2 separate regions of the Homo sapiens genome follow, and region 2 is reported to be linked to region 1. Evidence: microRNA targets listed by miRTarBase, many of them from high-throughput screens and not tested one by one. Region 1 holds a microRNA gene; the other region holds the end of a gene's coding sequence.

Region 1 (7,120 bases):
GCTGATTTCCAGGGCCCTCGATACATTTATTATTATTATTATTATTTTGAGACAGGGTCTTAGCTCTGTTGCCCAGGCTGGAGTGCAGTGGTGCAATCACAGCTCACTGCAGCCTCGACCTCCTGGGCTCAAGCCACCCACCCGCCTCAGCCTCCCAAAGTGCTGGAATCCCAGGTGTGAGCCACTGTGCCTGGCCTATTACTATTATTATTATTTGGCGATGATGGTGGGGACTACTGGGCAGGGAACCAAGAGTCAGGATGCTAGCCCCTGCTTTAGCATGGCCTCCCTGGGAGTCCTTGGACAAGTCCCCTGCCTTTGCTGGGCCTCAGCCTTCCCCTCTGTACAATGGGGGGATGCCTATGATTCTGGGGCCAGGGCAGAAAGTTGGAAATGGGCAGAGCAGGGCCTCAAGTTTTCAGTGCATTTGTGACTTTCAGTTTGGAGACAGGCAGCTCTGGCCTTGGTGGAGATGGCTCTCCCAGCGTCTGTGTTTCAGAAGACGGGCTGGGAGTGAGGACTCTCAGCTGCAGTCTCCCATCCTTCCCCAACATGCCTGAGCCTCCAGGTTCTGCCCCGCCCAGTCAAGCAGGGTTCCCTTCCCCAACCCCCCAGTGAGTTGCTGTATGACCTTGGCTAAGTCACTCTACCTCTCTGGCTTCCATTTGGGGTAACAGAGTCACAAAGGCCTCAGCAAAGGGCAGCCTGTCCTGGCCACCCACTCCCCTCCCTTTGGCCACATATCATCCCTCCTATTGTAGCACCACTGAGCTGGGAGAGCCTTGGGGGATGGTGGAGGCCAAGTGTCCAGTTTCACAGGTGAGGAAACTGAGGCCCTGAAAGGTCTGCCCAGGGCCAGCCATCTCCAGTCCTCATGCCCTCTTTCTCTGCAGCATCGCTCTGTAGTAATAAAGAACACACCCAAATGACAGAGGCCGGCAGCTAGAGCTCCAGCCGACTTCCAAATCCCCAGGCTTCCACATTCCCAGACTTCTTTGAGCCCCTCTGTCCTTGTCTGTGGAACCGGGATAGCAGCAGACTCTGCTCACAGGCAGGGTAAGCCCTGGAGGGAGGAGGAGGGCATGAGAAGCAGTCTGAGGACACCGGTGTCCAGGGTGGCCCTCCTTCTCCCCACTCCCCCCAGGCCCCGTGCAGCGGCCCAGCCTCTCTCTTGCCATCCTTTGGCTTCCTGCCCTCAGTTTCCCCCTCGTGCCTCCCTGGCCCGTGCTGCCTCTTGCTAGGCCTCTAGGGCAACCAGGAGAACCCCACAGAAGAGGCAGCAGTGATGGCAGGTGGTGGGCACCGAAGCCCAAGCCCCTCAACCGTCCTCAGAGCATTTGATGTCAGAAGGCAGTATTTGTTTCCAAGGCCAGCTGCACTGCTGCTTGGTGTGCCCCTGCTCCTCTGCATGATTCCTACCTGGCGTGGCTGCTGCTGTGGCTTCTTCCGTGGTCATCTATCCTTTCCCCCCTTGCTGGCCTGGCTGCACCCCCTGAACACTGCATTGCCCCTGTTGGCGTGGCTGCTGCAGCCACTGTAGCCCTTATGTGGGCAGAAACGGCAGCGCCTTTGCTGGCATGGCTGGTCTGTGGTCAGATAAGCTGCTCCCCACCCACCCTGGCATGGCCACTGGGAAGCACGCTGTGGTCCACTGATGGCCTCTGCTGCCAGGATCCAGGTCTGAGGCCACAGCTGTCTGCATCAATGGCAGTGCTCGAGGCACTCACTGGACATCTCTAGATGGCGGCTGCTGTTCCTTCAATGGGGGCAGCCCAGCCTCACTTTGAAGTCCATCACTCAAGGGACCCCAGCTCCTCCAAGACCCTGGACCCCCAAGACTCTCTGTGCCCACCTCTTCCCAGAACCTCTCTCTGGCCCTGGTGATCTTTCGACTCCCAAGGATGGAGCTGAGTGGTCCTTTCTTACGGGACTTCAGGGTAGCAGAGAGTGGCAGCAGGACAGGGGACCTTCCTCCCTGCTCCCATAATGCTCCAAGGCCATCACAAATAGCCCGGGATCTCCAATAGCCCGTGGCACAGCTGCCCTGGGAGAGTAGGCTACTCTGAGACCGCCTGTCTCCCCCAAACCCTCATCAGGCAGCAGTTTCAAGGCCTGTGTTCTCCAGGGGGCATCAAAGGGATTTCTGTATAATGACAGAGAAGCTTCTGGAAAATTTTCATGGCCATTGGTGCTCCAGGCTTCTCCCAGCCTCTGGCCACCTTGGTGGTACTTATTCAGTCCACAAACCTTGGGGACCTACTGTGTGCCAGAGACTGTGCTTGCCGTGGGGATGGGGCAATGGGAGGCCAGACCCATCTCTACCCTGGGGACACTCACAGTCTGGGTGAGGACACAGGCGGAAACAGTGATTTAGCTGCCGTGGTAGTGAGTACACAGAGACTCGCTGTGCGTCACCAGGGTACCTGACAGAGACAATCCTGGAAAGTTCCTGGAGGAAGTGACCTTCCAGCCCATCTCTGAGCCTTGGGGAGGATATAGTCAGGCAATTGGGGAAGGGTCAGTGCTTCAGGCAGGGGAAGAGCATGTGCAAAGCCTCTGAACAGAAGGGGCATGCCCTTTATAGCCTTGAGTCCAAATCCTTATTAGTTACGTTTGCCAGGGACAGGTTGGCACAGTGGCTAAAGGCTGGGGCTCTGGCATCACATGGCCTAGGTTTGAATCTCACTTTGCTGCTTACTAACTATGAGACAATGTATAAATTACTTGACCCCCTCCCCATCCTTCAGTTTCTTCATCTGTAAAATGGGAATATTACTTTACACGAATGGTCCTGCTGAATCCCAACAACACTTCGCAAAGCTGTTGGGATTCAATGGGACCATTCATGTAAAGCACTTAGCACACAATAAATGCTCAATAAATCTTACCACGAATCTCACCTACTGAGCATCTGTGTGTGTTCCGCAGTTTATCTTCACACAGATCTGTGAAGCTTGGACCCACTGCTCCATTTCATAGATAAGAAGACTGAGGGTTAGAGGACTGAATAAGGTGGAGATCGACTGAGGTTTTGGAGGAATCAGGGAGGCTTCTTGGAGGAGGTGGTGGCTGAGCTGGGTGTTGAGAATGGCCACCCCTGCCCCACCCACCAGTCAGGAAGGCTCACTCTAAGCAGAGTATTTCAGCTTCAGGGGCTCCACTGGTCCCGGGCTCCCTGGGTCTGGGGATGGAACAAAAGGGCTGCCCTGGGCACTCCCAAGGCCTCCCAGGAGTCTCAGCAGGGAAGGCCCCATCGGGCCAGGTTCTCAGGCTACAGAGCCTCCAGCGAGCATCAAACAACAAAAAGGCTTTTCTCACTCTGGATGAGTCACCAGAGCGAGCAGACGCCCCGTCCCTGTGCTGAAGAAGATGAAACCACACATCTGAAGAAGTTTCCCACGCCACCACTTGCTTTAAATAGCTGCAGAGAGAAGTGGAGGAGGGAGGGAAGGGGAGAGGGGGTAGGGAAGCAGGGCTGTCCGCACCAGGACCTGGCTGGGGTCTCCCCCATACCCCAGGACCCTGACACGCACCCCTTGAAGCAGGTTGTTGATGAGAACTCAGGCCCCATGGGTGCCAGGGGAGCCCAGCAGAGGCCCAGAGCCCACGGTGGGCCAGGGCACAGCAGACAGATAGGCAGACAGCAGGAGACACATCCAGCTGGGCCGTGGGGTGCACACCCCTGTGTCAGGGTGCAGGCCCAGGAAGGGGGAAGTTGACCTCACTGTGCACCCCGGTGCAGCCTCTAGGCCCCCAGCCAAGCTTCCTCGCAGGTCACCTGACACCCCTGAGTGCTCTGGCTGTGCCCCCCTGCCTGGCTAGGTTCGTGACTGAGCCCTGGGCGGCATTTCCGGAGGCAGGCCGGGAGCTGGGGCTGCTTACGCACTTGCTGTCCCCCCCCGCCTCCAGCAGGGCCGGGTGAGAAGAGAGCCCCCCATCCCCCCCTTCCCGTAAATGAGCTCACCCCCACCCCAGGGCCTCACAGGGATTCTAAGAAGTGGAAGCCAGGCACCTGCTCCTCGCCCACAGCAGGGGGTGGGGGTGGGGTAGGAGGGGGAGGGGCAAGGGAGAGGCCAGGGGTCCTCATAACCCCTCAGCTCAGCCCTCAGGCCTAGGCCAGGGTTCAGGGGCGGCCCCAGGGGTTGGTAAATATTCTTTCCCTTAGGTGTGGAAGAATGCCCTCTCTGTTGTCCATGCGAGAGCAGTGCAGTTCAGGATGCCTCCATGGCCCGGGCCCATTTTTCAGAAGGCAAACTAAGGGAATCCCAGAGATGCCTTGGAGGCCAGTCTGGTTCCCTCCCACGCTGGGAGTAAGATCACCTCCTGGATGTTCGGGCAGCCCTTGGTGACCATCAGTGGCTCACTAAATATCTGCCTTTGGAGACCCTCTAAGCCAAGGCCCAGAGAGGGCAGTGATTTGTCCAAGGTCACACAGCAGGCCGGGGGAGGTCCAGGCATACCTCTAGGTGAGTCCATACCCTGCCCAACCCACCAGTACTGCCAGCAAACATTCATTTGGCATCTACTGGATCCTTTGCAGGGACATGGGATTAAATAAGACAGCATCCCACCGACGGGGTCCAAAAAATAATCATGAGCAGTCGCCAGAACCTGGGCCAGGGGATCTCAGTGCTGCCTTCTCATCCAGGTCTCGAGGCTTTGAAAAAATACAGATTCCAGGGCTCCAGCCCTGAGATTAGGATTCAGCAGACTGGGAAGGAGCCCAGGAACCTGCATTTTATAAAGTTCCTCTAGTTGATCTGATGGATTGAGAAGCTTGGAACAGACTGTAAGCAAATTGAGGGCAGGGGCTGCCCCGAAGGAGGGGAGGGGTTTTCCAAGGGCTTCCAGTGAGAGACACACACCCCAGCCTTCCCCTCCCACACCAACCTCTGCCTGTACACAGGGCCCAGCCCAAAGAGGCTTCCAGGAACGAGGCACTGACAAGAATAGTTCCAAGAGGCTGAATGACGGCCCCCGCCTCTCTCTGCTCTCCCCACTCCCGAGTTCACATGCAGGACAGGGTGGCCATGCTCCAGGCAGCCAACGAGGTGGGCGATCCCACTGTGGACGGCTCTGCCTGGTGTTAGGGCCCTGGCCTGTGCCCTCCGTCCCCCGTCTGCACCCTCCCTGAGGTCCCTGCGGCCCAGGCTGGGTGGCTCCAGGCCTCCGTAGGCTGTAGGTCCTGGGGTGAGGGGGAGTCTCTTGTCTGTCCAGAGAGTATGAGGCTGGGAAAGGCGGGGGTGCTAGGACCTGCAGCTAAGGTGTGTGCGGGCTCGCTTCCTGGTACTCGAGGAGTTTGGTGCTCCCGGGCCTGGTAGCGTGGGAAGCAACATGGAGGCCCTGGGCTGGGCTGTCCCTGTGTGCCTGGCAGAGCATCCAGCCAGGACCAGGCTCAGTGAGGACTCATGGACCGACTGATCTGGGGATGTGGGTGGCAGAAGCTGCCCCCTCCCTGTCTCTAACGCAGTGCCCAGCTCGGCCACCTCACGAGGCCACTGTCCTCTCAGACTCCATGTCTGCTTCTGTGCAATGGGCAGCAGGGGTGGGAAGAGAAAGGCTTGTCCAGGGCCACAGTGGGGCTAGAGGGAGCAGCCAGGCCCCTCAGCAGGCCTGCTCCTAGCGCCAGGGGCCACATCCCCACAGCCTCCGCTTTTGCAGAGGGCAGGGGAGACAGAAGTCACCGAGAGGAAGTAGAGAGCCCTCCCCAGACCCATCTGAGTGGGGCTGCCAATCGCCGGCTCTGGAGCTTCGAGCAGGGCATGGTGCCACGCCTCTCAGAACCCCATTTTCTCATCTGTGCAGCAGAGACCCCCCGACTCCAGAGGGCTGCTTTGAGGGTTAAATGAGCAAAATCTCGTGAATGTGTGAGGAATAGTCATTATTTCGATAGGCGTGATTGACATTTTTCTCACTAGAGTGTGAGTTCCAGGGGCAGGGGTTGTGCCTGACATTGGTAGGTGCTCAGTTGGTTTGTGGAGTGAATAAACGAGTGTAGAGGGAGCCGTTCTCTTGGCCTGTGCTGGAGGCTTCCTGGGGCCTTGTTCAGCACATGTGTGTGCTCACGTTTGTGTGCACCCATGTGTGTAGGCATGCATGTGCATGTGTATGTGCAGGCATGTATGTGTGTGCACGTGTGTGTAGGCATGTATGTGAATATGTGTGTGCAGGTATGTATGTGTGTGCAGATGTGTGCATGCAAGAATGTATGTGTGTATGCATGTGTGTAGGCATGTATGTGAATGTGTGTGTGCAGGCATGTATGTGTGTGTAGGTGTGTGTATGCAGGTAGGTATGTGTGTGCATGTGTGTGTGGGCATGTATGTGAATGTGTGTGTGCAGGCATGTATGTGTGCGTGTGCAGGCATGTATGTGTGTGTGCAGGTGTGTGTGCGCGCAGGTGTGTGTGCAGGCATGTGTGTGTCCGGGCATGTACGTGTGTGTCCAGGCATGTATGCGTGTGTGCAGGTGTGTGTGTGCACAGGCATGTAGGTGTGTGTGTGTGGGCATGTATGCATGTGTGCAGGGGTGTGTGTGTGTGCAGGCATGTGTATGTGTGCAGGTGTGTGTGTGTGCAGGCATGTATGTGCGGGAGTGTGTGTGCACGCATCCACATGCCTGCACACTCCTGCATGCGGGTCTGGCCCCGGTGTGGAAATGTGGGTCTGTGCATGGCCTGTCTGGGTCTGTGTTTTGCATATGGGTCTGGCATGTGGCCATTTGCATGTACTTCTCAGTCTGTGGGCCTATAGCTATGAGTGTGCTCACCCCACAGGTGTCCAGGCTTGGTCCGGAGTGAGGGTGTCTGATTATTGGTGTATGGCGGGTATGGGAGGTTGCCTCCTGCTCTCCTGACTCCCTCTCCCCAACCAGGACTCCAAGTTGTGAGCCCGCCTGGGAGTGCCAGACTATGTAAAACAGAGACCAGGCCCAGGGAAGCCCCTGCAGAGTGGCCCCTGGGGACTTCCAGGCCCCTCCTCCCTGGATGCCCCTCCCCTCAGTAAAGCCTTCTGCCCCTTCCAAAGTCTCATGACTCTCCACTCAGGGGCTTCCTCTCATATCTGGGGGCTGCACACAGTGCCCAGATTTCCCTGTCTGCCCTCTCTCCCACCACTGCTTT
Region 2 (7,120 bases), not on the chromosome of region 1:
TTATGGCTCACTGCAGCCCCAGCCTCCCAGGGTCATGCAATCCTCCCACCTCAGCCTTCCAAGTAGCTGGGACTACAGGTGCACGCCACCACACCTAGCTAATTTTTTTATATTCTGTAGAGACAGGGTTTTGCCTTATTGCCTAGTCTGGTCTTGAATTCCTGGACCCAAATGATCCACCCACCTCAGGCTCTCAAAGTGCTGGGATTACACAGGTATGAGCCACTACGCCTGGCCAGGAAGATTTTTAAAGGCTAAGAATTGTATAGGTCCTAGAGAAAAGGATGTTACAGAAAAGAAAAAGTGATGGAGAAACAAAAAGGCAAAGAAAAACAAAACATTTGGGAATTTGTTGTGAATAAGAGAAGAAACCTTAACAGTCATTGCAGTCACATCTTAAACTTTATTCTAAAGTCTGTCTTTATTTTTCATATTAGCTAAACCTATTCGTCCCGGGCAACATCCAGCAGCTTCTCCAACTCACCCAAGTGCAATTCGTGGAGGAGGTGCATTTGTTCAGAACAGCCAGCCAGTGGCAGTGCGAGGTGGAGGAGGCAAACAAGTGTAATCGTTTATACATACCCACAGGTTTGTTATTTATATCTGGCTTTTCATATCTGTTTGTGGAAAATTGGTTGTTAAATAGGTTTTTTGGTTTTAAAAAATTCTCACATTAGTGTTATGATTTTTTTAACTTAAGCATTATAAAAGTAATTTAGTTTGATCTTTTTGTGTAGTTTAGATCATACTATATATTCAAATTTGTGGTCTTAATTGTTTTGAAATCTAGCATTGGACCATTTGTAATAGCTTTTGATACTGTGTCTAATGGATGTACCATGGTTTATAAACATTCCTTTCCTTTTGGCTAGACATGTAATTATATTAATTTTTTCCATAATTGAAATTTTCAAAAACCAAAATTTTCATATATGAAATTTGAAACATCTTTTTTTTTTTTTCTTTTTCTTTTTGAGATGGAATCTCACTCTTGTCGCCCAGCCTGGAGTGCAATGGCGTGATCTCAGCTCACTGCAACCTCTGGCTCCTGGGTTCAAGCGATACCCCTGCCTCAGCCTCCCAAACTGGGATTACAGGCGCCTGCCACCATGCCTGGCTAATTTTTGTGTTTTTAGTAGAGACGAGGGGTTTCACCATGTTGGTCAGGCTGGTCTCAAACTCCTGACTTCAGGCGATCTGCCCGCCTCGGCCTCCCAAAGTGCTGGAATTAGAGGCGTGAGCCACCGCGCCCGACCTGAAACATCTCCTTGTATTCCCTAACCTGTTAGAGATTATTTCCAGAAGGTTCCCAGAAATGCAATTACAAGGAAATATGAACATTTTTAAGGCTCTTGCTACATATTAACACATTGGTTTCTAGAAAGACTGCACCAAATTGCTTATGAGCCCAGCTTACTAACAGATTTCTGAGTTTTATTTATAATTATATAAGTAATATCTGTTCTTTGTAGGGCATAAAACAGTCACAAATTAGAAAAAATCTAGAGATACTACACAATATACTATCTCTCTCTCTCTCTCTCTCTTTCTGGAGCTTTCTGTATTAGTTTTTAAATTTAAAAGTTTAAACTGTTGATAACTATTGTAATAGACTCCACTTATTCTACTACATATGCTGCTTCGGAGCCTGCTTTTTTTTCCGGCCCCCTGCCCCCACAAACCCCACACCCCCCTGCCCCACTCCGAGACGGAGCCTCGTTCTTGTTGCCCAGGCTGACATGCAGTGGGGTGATCTTGGCTCACCGCAACCTCTGCTTCCCAGGTTGAAGCGATTCTCCTGCCTCAGCCTCCCAAGTAGCTGGGATTACAGGCGTGCACCACCACACCGGCTAATTTTGTATTTTGTAGCCTGCTTTTTAAACTTAGCAATATATTCGGAACACTTTCTTCTACAACGTGATTGGTTAGTGGTTGCCTAATAATTGGTCATATAGCAGCAACTCTGATTGTAACTAACTCTTCAGGAAGTCCCTGATGTGTGTATGTGCTTTGGAAATAAAAAATACTAGATAATTATGAAATGATCAGCTGTTTCTGACAAATACTAAAGCTAGTTTATTTTAATGTTGCTTGTTTATACTTCGACATTTTGCATAATACTGGCTCTAAGTTGAGTAGAGAATTAAGAAATATTCTGAAGGATTCACATTTCTAGCAATTTTAAACGTTTTGTTCACACAATGTAGGATTTAAAACAGTGGTAGAGTGAAAAGAACAGGGACTATGGAGTTCCATCCAAGTTGGAATCCTGACTACTTTTATGAACTTGAGCAGATAAACTTTTTAATAGTTTTTTTCTCATTCTGACTTGTTTTACAGTACTTCATAAAAATTATGGATTTATTGCTTAACTATTTAATGAATCTCTAAAATAACATTTTTCTACATAGCCACAATATTATCACACCCAGTAAGATTATATTTTTAATATTATTTAATACCATTCCATATTCAGATTTTTCCAATTTCTTTTTCACTATCCTGTACAGCTGGTTTGTCTAAACCAGAGTACAATTCAGGACTGCTGTTTGCGTTTAGTTTTATCCCTTAAATCTCTTCTGATCTTGAATGAGCACCCTCTTTAGTGATATTGACTTACTGAGTAGGCCCAGTTATCTTGAGGGTATAACACCTGTGTCTGATTGTTTTTATGTGTAGTCACCTTGTTCTCCCTCTATTTCTATGCAAAAGCATTGATTAGACTCAGCATAAACATTTTTGACAAAGTTATGTCATAGATAATATGTACTTAATATCAGTAGACATACAATAGCTGGTTTTCATGATAATTAGAGATAACTCCTGTGTTTTTCCCCTTTGGACTCATAGCAGTTTTATTAGTAAAATGGAAGTCATTCTTAAGAATTACATGAGTTGGCCGGGAGCAGTGGCTCACACCTGTAATCCCAGCACTTGGGAGGCTGAGGTGGGTGGGTCACCTCAGGTCAGGAGTTCGAGACCAGCCTGACCAACACGGAGAAACCCTGCCTCTACTAAAAATACAAAATCAGCAGGGCGTGGTGGCACATGCCTGTAATCCCAGCTACTCGGGAGGCTGGGGCAGGAGAATCGCTTGAACCCAGGAGGCGGAGTTTGCAGTGATCCGAGATCGTGGCATTGCACTCCAGCCTGGGCAACAAGAGCAAAACTCCGTCTCAAAAAAAAAAAAAAAAAAATTACATGAGTTAAGATGTTACCCAGCACACAGTATTCAGTAGATGCAAGCCTTTTCCTACCTTTCTGGAAGTGGGAGCTGGGCAAGGGGATTTTCAAAGCATAGATAGAAAGTTTATCCTTTTTGGATATTGTCCTCACATTAAAATTCATATGTCAACTTTAAACTTACCTCATTGTAGAGAGAGGACAGACCATACTTTTGTTAACTATTGCTGATAGCAGTAAAGTGACACCAGGTTAGCACATAAGGGAGGGAGCTAACCCAGCCAAACTAGGTTTTCAAGACTTGAAAGTTATGATGTAAAAATACAATTATTTACAGGTTTGTTTTGATGCTGGTCCAAAGATAGTGGTTCTTAGTTTTCAAACTCTTATAATCTATCTTAAACCATGATTGGGGAGTATATGATTCACTTAAGTGATAAATTGTTTAAATGTTAAATAATTTGCACTGGAGTGCAGTGGCAGGATCTCGGCTCACTGCAACCTCTGCTTCCCGGGTTCAAGCAGTTCTCCCTGCCTCACCCTCCCGAGTAGCTGGGATTACAGGCGCCCACTACCACGCCCGCCTAAGGTTTTTGTATTTTTACTAGAGACGGGGTTTTGCCATGTTGGCCAGGCTGGTATTGAACTCCTGACCGCAGGTGATCTGCCTCCCTCAGCCTCCCAAAGTGCTCAGATTACAGGTGTGAGCCACTGTGCCCGGCGAGAAATTTTTTTAATGTTAAGAAAAACATTTCAAGTCACTGTGTTTATTTTTGGAAAGGATGACATTTATAATACTGATACTTTTAGTTCCCAGTTTTACATGACTAGTCTTCTGCCTTGCATAGTACTTTAAATAGGTTGCTTTTCTAAATGCATAGGTAAGTAGGCAGTTTAATACTACTAGAATTATTTATTTCACTGTTACTTTTCCTACTGTATACACCTCTTGTTTATCCCTATTCCTCTCCCCCTTTTTTTTTTAAAGCTTCTATGTATATAACTAGTAGTTGCTGGTTAGTGTTCCTTGGTTTAAGAAGGTCACTGACCACTGTCTGCTGGTTAAAAGATTAGCCGTCTTTTTCTTTTTTAAACAAATACAATTCATAAATCAGCTTACCCATAGCTTTATTTGGGAGAATAAAAACAAAGGGAGGGCTGACCTCCCTTTAAACATTACTGCTTCTAAACAGTTCTACTTAGGTAGTATATAAAAGGAAACCAAATCATTTAATATTGCCATCCTTCTAATTTTGGGGAAAGTAGCCACAGATGTTGGCTAAAATGTTTATAATAAACTGTTGGCATATTTTATTTTGTTTTATTCTTCATGATTATCTCAAACACCAATTTTGTAAAACTAAACATATTTACTCTATGCTTTCTCCCATTTTTAGGTGTTAAAAAGTAATCGAAGTACGAAGAGGACATGGTATCAAGCAGTCATTCAATGACTATAACCTCTACTCCCTTGGGATTGTAGAATTATAACTTTTAAAAAAAATGTATAAATTATACCTGGCCTGTACAGCTGTTTCCTACCTACTCTTCTTGTAAACTCTGCTGCTTCCCAACACAACTAGAGTGCAATTTTGGCATCTTAGGAGGGAAAAAGGACAGTTTACAACTGTGGCCCTATTTATTACACAGTTTGTCTATCGTGTCTTAAATTTAGTCTTTACTGTGCCAAGCTAACTGTACCTTATAGGACTGTACTTTTTGTATTTTTTGTGTATGTTTATTTTTTAATCTCAGTTTAAATTACCTAGCTGCTACTGCTTCTTGTTTTTCTTTTCCTATTAAAACGTCTTCCTTTTTTTTTCTTAAGAGAAAATGGAACATTTAGGTTAAATGTCTTTAAATTTTACCACTTAACAACACTACATGCCCATAAAATATATCCAGTCAGTACTGTATTTTAAAATCCCTTGAAATGATGATATCAGGGTTAAAATTACTTGTATTGTTTCTGAAGTTTGCTCCTGAAAACTACTGTTTGAGCACTGAAACGTTACAAATGCCTAATAGGCATTTGAGACTGAGCAAGGCTACTTGTTATCTCATGAAATGCCTGTTGCCGAGTTATTTTGAATAGAAATATTTTAAAGTATCAAAAGCAGATCTTAGTTTAAGGGAGTTTGGAAAAGGAATTATATTTCTCTTTTTCCTGATTCTGTACTCAACAAGTCTTGATGGAATTAAAATACTCTGCTTTATTCTGGTGAGCCTGCTAGCTAATATAAGTATTGGACAGGTAATAATTTGTCATCTTTAATATTAGTAAAATGAATTAAGATATTATAGGATTAAACATAATTTTATACGGTTAGTACTTTATTGGCCGACCTAAATTTATAGCGTGTGGAAATTGAGAAAAATGAAGAAACAGGACAGATATATGATGAATTAAAAATATATATAGGTCAATTTTGGTCTGAAATCCCTGAGGTGTTTTTAACCTGCTACACTAATTTGTACACTAATTTATTTCTTTAGTCTAGAAATAGTAAATTGTTTGCAAGTCACTAATAATCATTAGATAAATTATTTTCTTGGCCATAGCCGATAATTTTGTAATCAGTACTAAGTGTATACGTATTTTTGCCACTTTTTCCTCAGATGATTAAAGTAAGTCAACAGCTTATTTTAGGAAACTGTAAAAGTAATAGGGAAAGAGATTTCACTATTTGCTTCATCAGTGGTAGGGGGGCGGTGACTGCAACTGTGTTAGCAGAAATTCACAGAGAATGGGGATTTAAGGTTAGCAGAGAAACTTGGAAAGTTCTGTGTTAGGATCTTGCTGGCAGAATTAACTTTTTGCAAAAGTTTTATACACAGATATTTGTATTAAATTTGGAGCCATAGTCAGAAGACTCAGATCATAATTGGCTTATTTTTCTATTTCCGTAACTATTGTAATTTCCACTTTTGTAATAATTTTGATTTAAAATATAAATTTATTTATTTATTTTTTTAATAGTCAAAAATCTTTGCTGTTGTAGTCTGCAACCTCTAAAATGATTGTGTTGCTTTTAGGATTGATCAGAAGAAACACTCCAAAAATTGAGATGAAATGTTGGTGCAGCCAGTTATAAGTAATATAGTTAACAAGCAAAAAAAGTGCTGCCACCTTTTATGATGATTTTCTAAATGGAGAAACATTTGGCTGCATCCACATAGACCTTTATGTTTTGTTTTCAGTTGAAAACTTGCCTCCTTTGGCAACATTCGTAAATGAAGCAGAATTTTTTTTTCTCTTTTTTCCAAATATGTTAGTTTTGTTCTTGTAAGATGTATCATGGGTATTGGTGCTGTGTAATGAACAACGAATTTTAATTAGCATGTGGTTCAGAATATACAATGTTAGGTTTTTAAAAAGTATCTTGATGGTTCTTTTCTATTTATAATTTCAGACTTTCATAAAGTGTACCAAGAATTTCATAAATTTGTTTTCAGTGAACTGCTTTTTGCTATGGTAGGTCATTAAACACAGCACTTACTCTTAAAAATGAAAATTTCTGATCATCTAGGATATTGACACATTTCAATTTGCAGTGTCTTTTTGACTGGATATATTAACGTTCCTCTGAATGGCATTGATAGATGGTTCAGAAGAGAAACTCAATGAAATAAAGAGAATATTTATTCATGGCGATTAATTAAATTATTTGCCTAACTTAAGAAAACTACTGTGCGTAACTCTCAGTTTGTGCTTAACTCCATTTGACATGAGGTGACAGAAGAGAGTCTGAGTCTACCTGTGGAATATGTTGGTTTATTTTCAGTGCTTGAAGATACATTCACAAATACTTGGTTTGGGAAGACACCGTTTAATTTTAAGTTAACTTGCATGTTGTAAATGCGTTTTATGTTTAAATAAAGAGGAAAATTTTTTGAAATGTAATGACTTTCTTAAAACTTAAGTGTTAGGTTGATT

The links. Region 1 holds the annotated microRNA hsa-miR-4425 (UGUUGGGAUUCAGCAGGACCAU, at 2,786-2,807, opposite strand). A microRNA usually pairs through its seed, bases 2 to 8, with sites in the 3' UTR of a target mRNA and lowers its output. Matches are read on the target gene's strand: a 7mer-m8 pairs with bases 2 to 8, a 7mer-A1 pairs with bases 2 to 7 and ends in A, and an 8mer does both.
Region 2: miRTarBase lists KIF5B as a target of hsa-miR-4425. Seed matches in the 3' UTR shown: 8mer at 4,752-4,759.

The regions. Positions count from the first base shown.
Region 1 is chr1:25,019,239-25,026,358 of GRCh38, reverse strand. MIR4425 (microRNA 4425) reads right to left here and starts at 2,856; the gene lies at 2,773-2,856. RefSeq lists enhancers at 554-1,227, 3,229-3,758, 2,658-4,220, 5,099-5,208, 4,699-5,225 and 4 more.
Region 2 is chr10:32,008,977-32,016,096 of GRCh38, reverse strand. It overlaps KIF5B (kinesin family member 5B), which reads left to right. Exons shown (of 26, transcript NM_004521.3): 25 at 438-588; 26 at 4,581-7,082. The coding sequence ends at 568. The region is part of intron 2 of LOC107984219 (a long non-coding RNA gene); the gene reads right to left. Among named protein-coding and RNA genes, the nearest start is that of KIF5B, 44 kb to the left of the region's middle.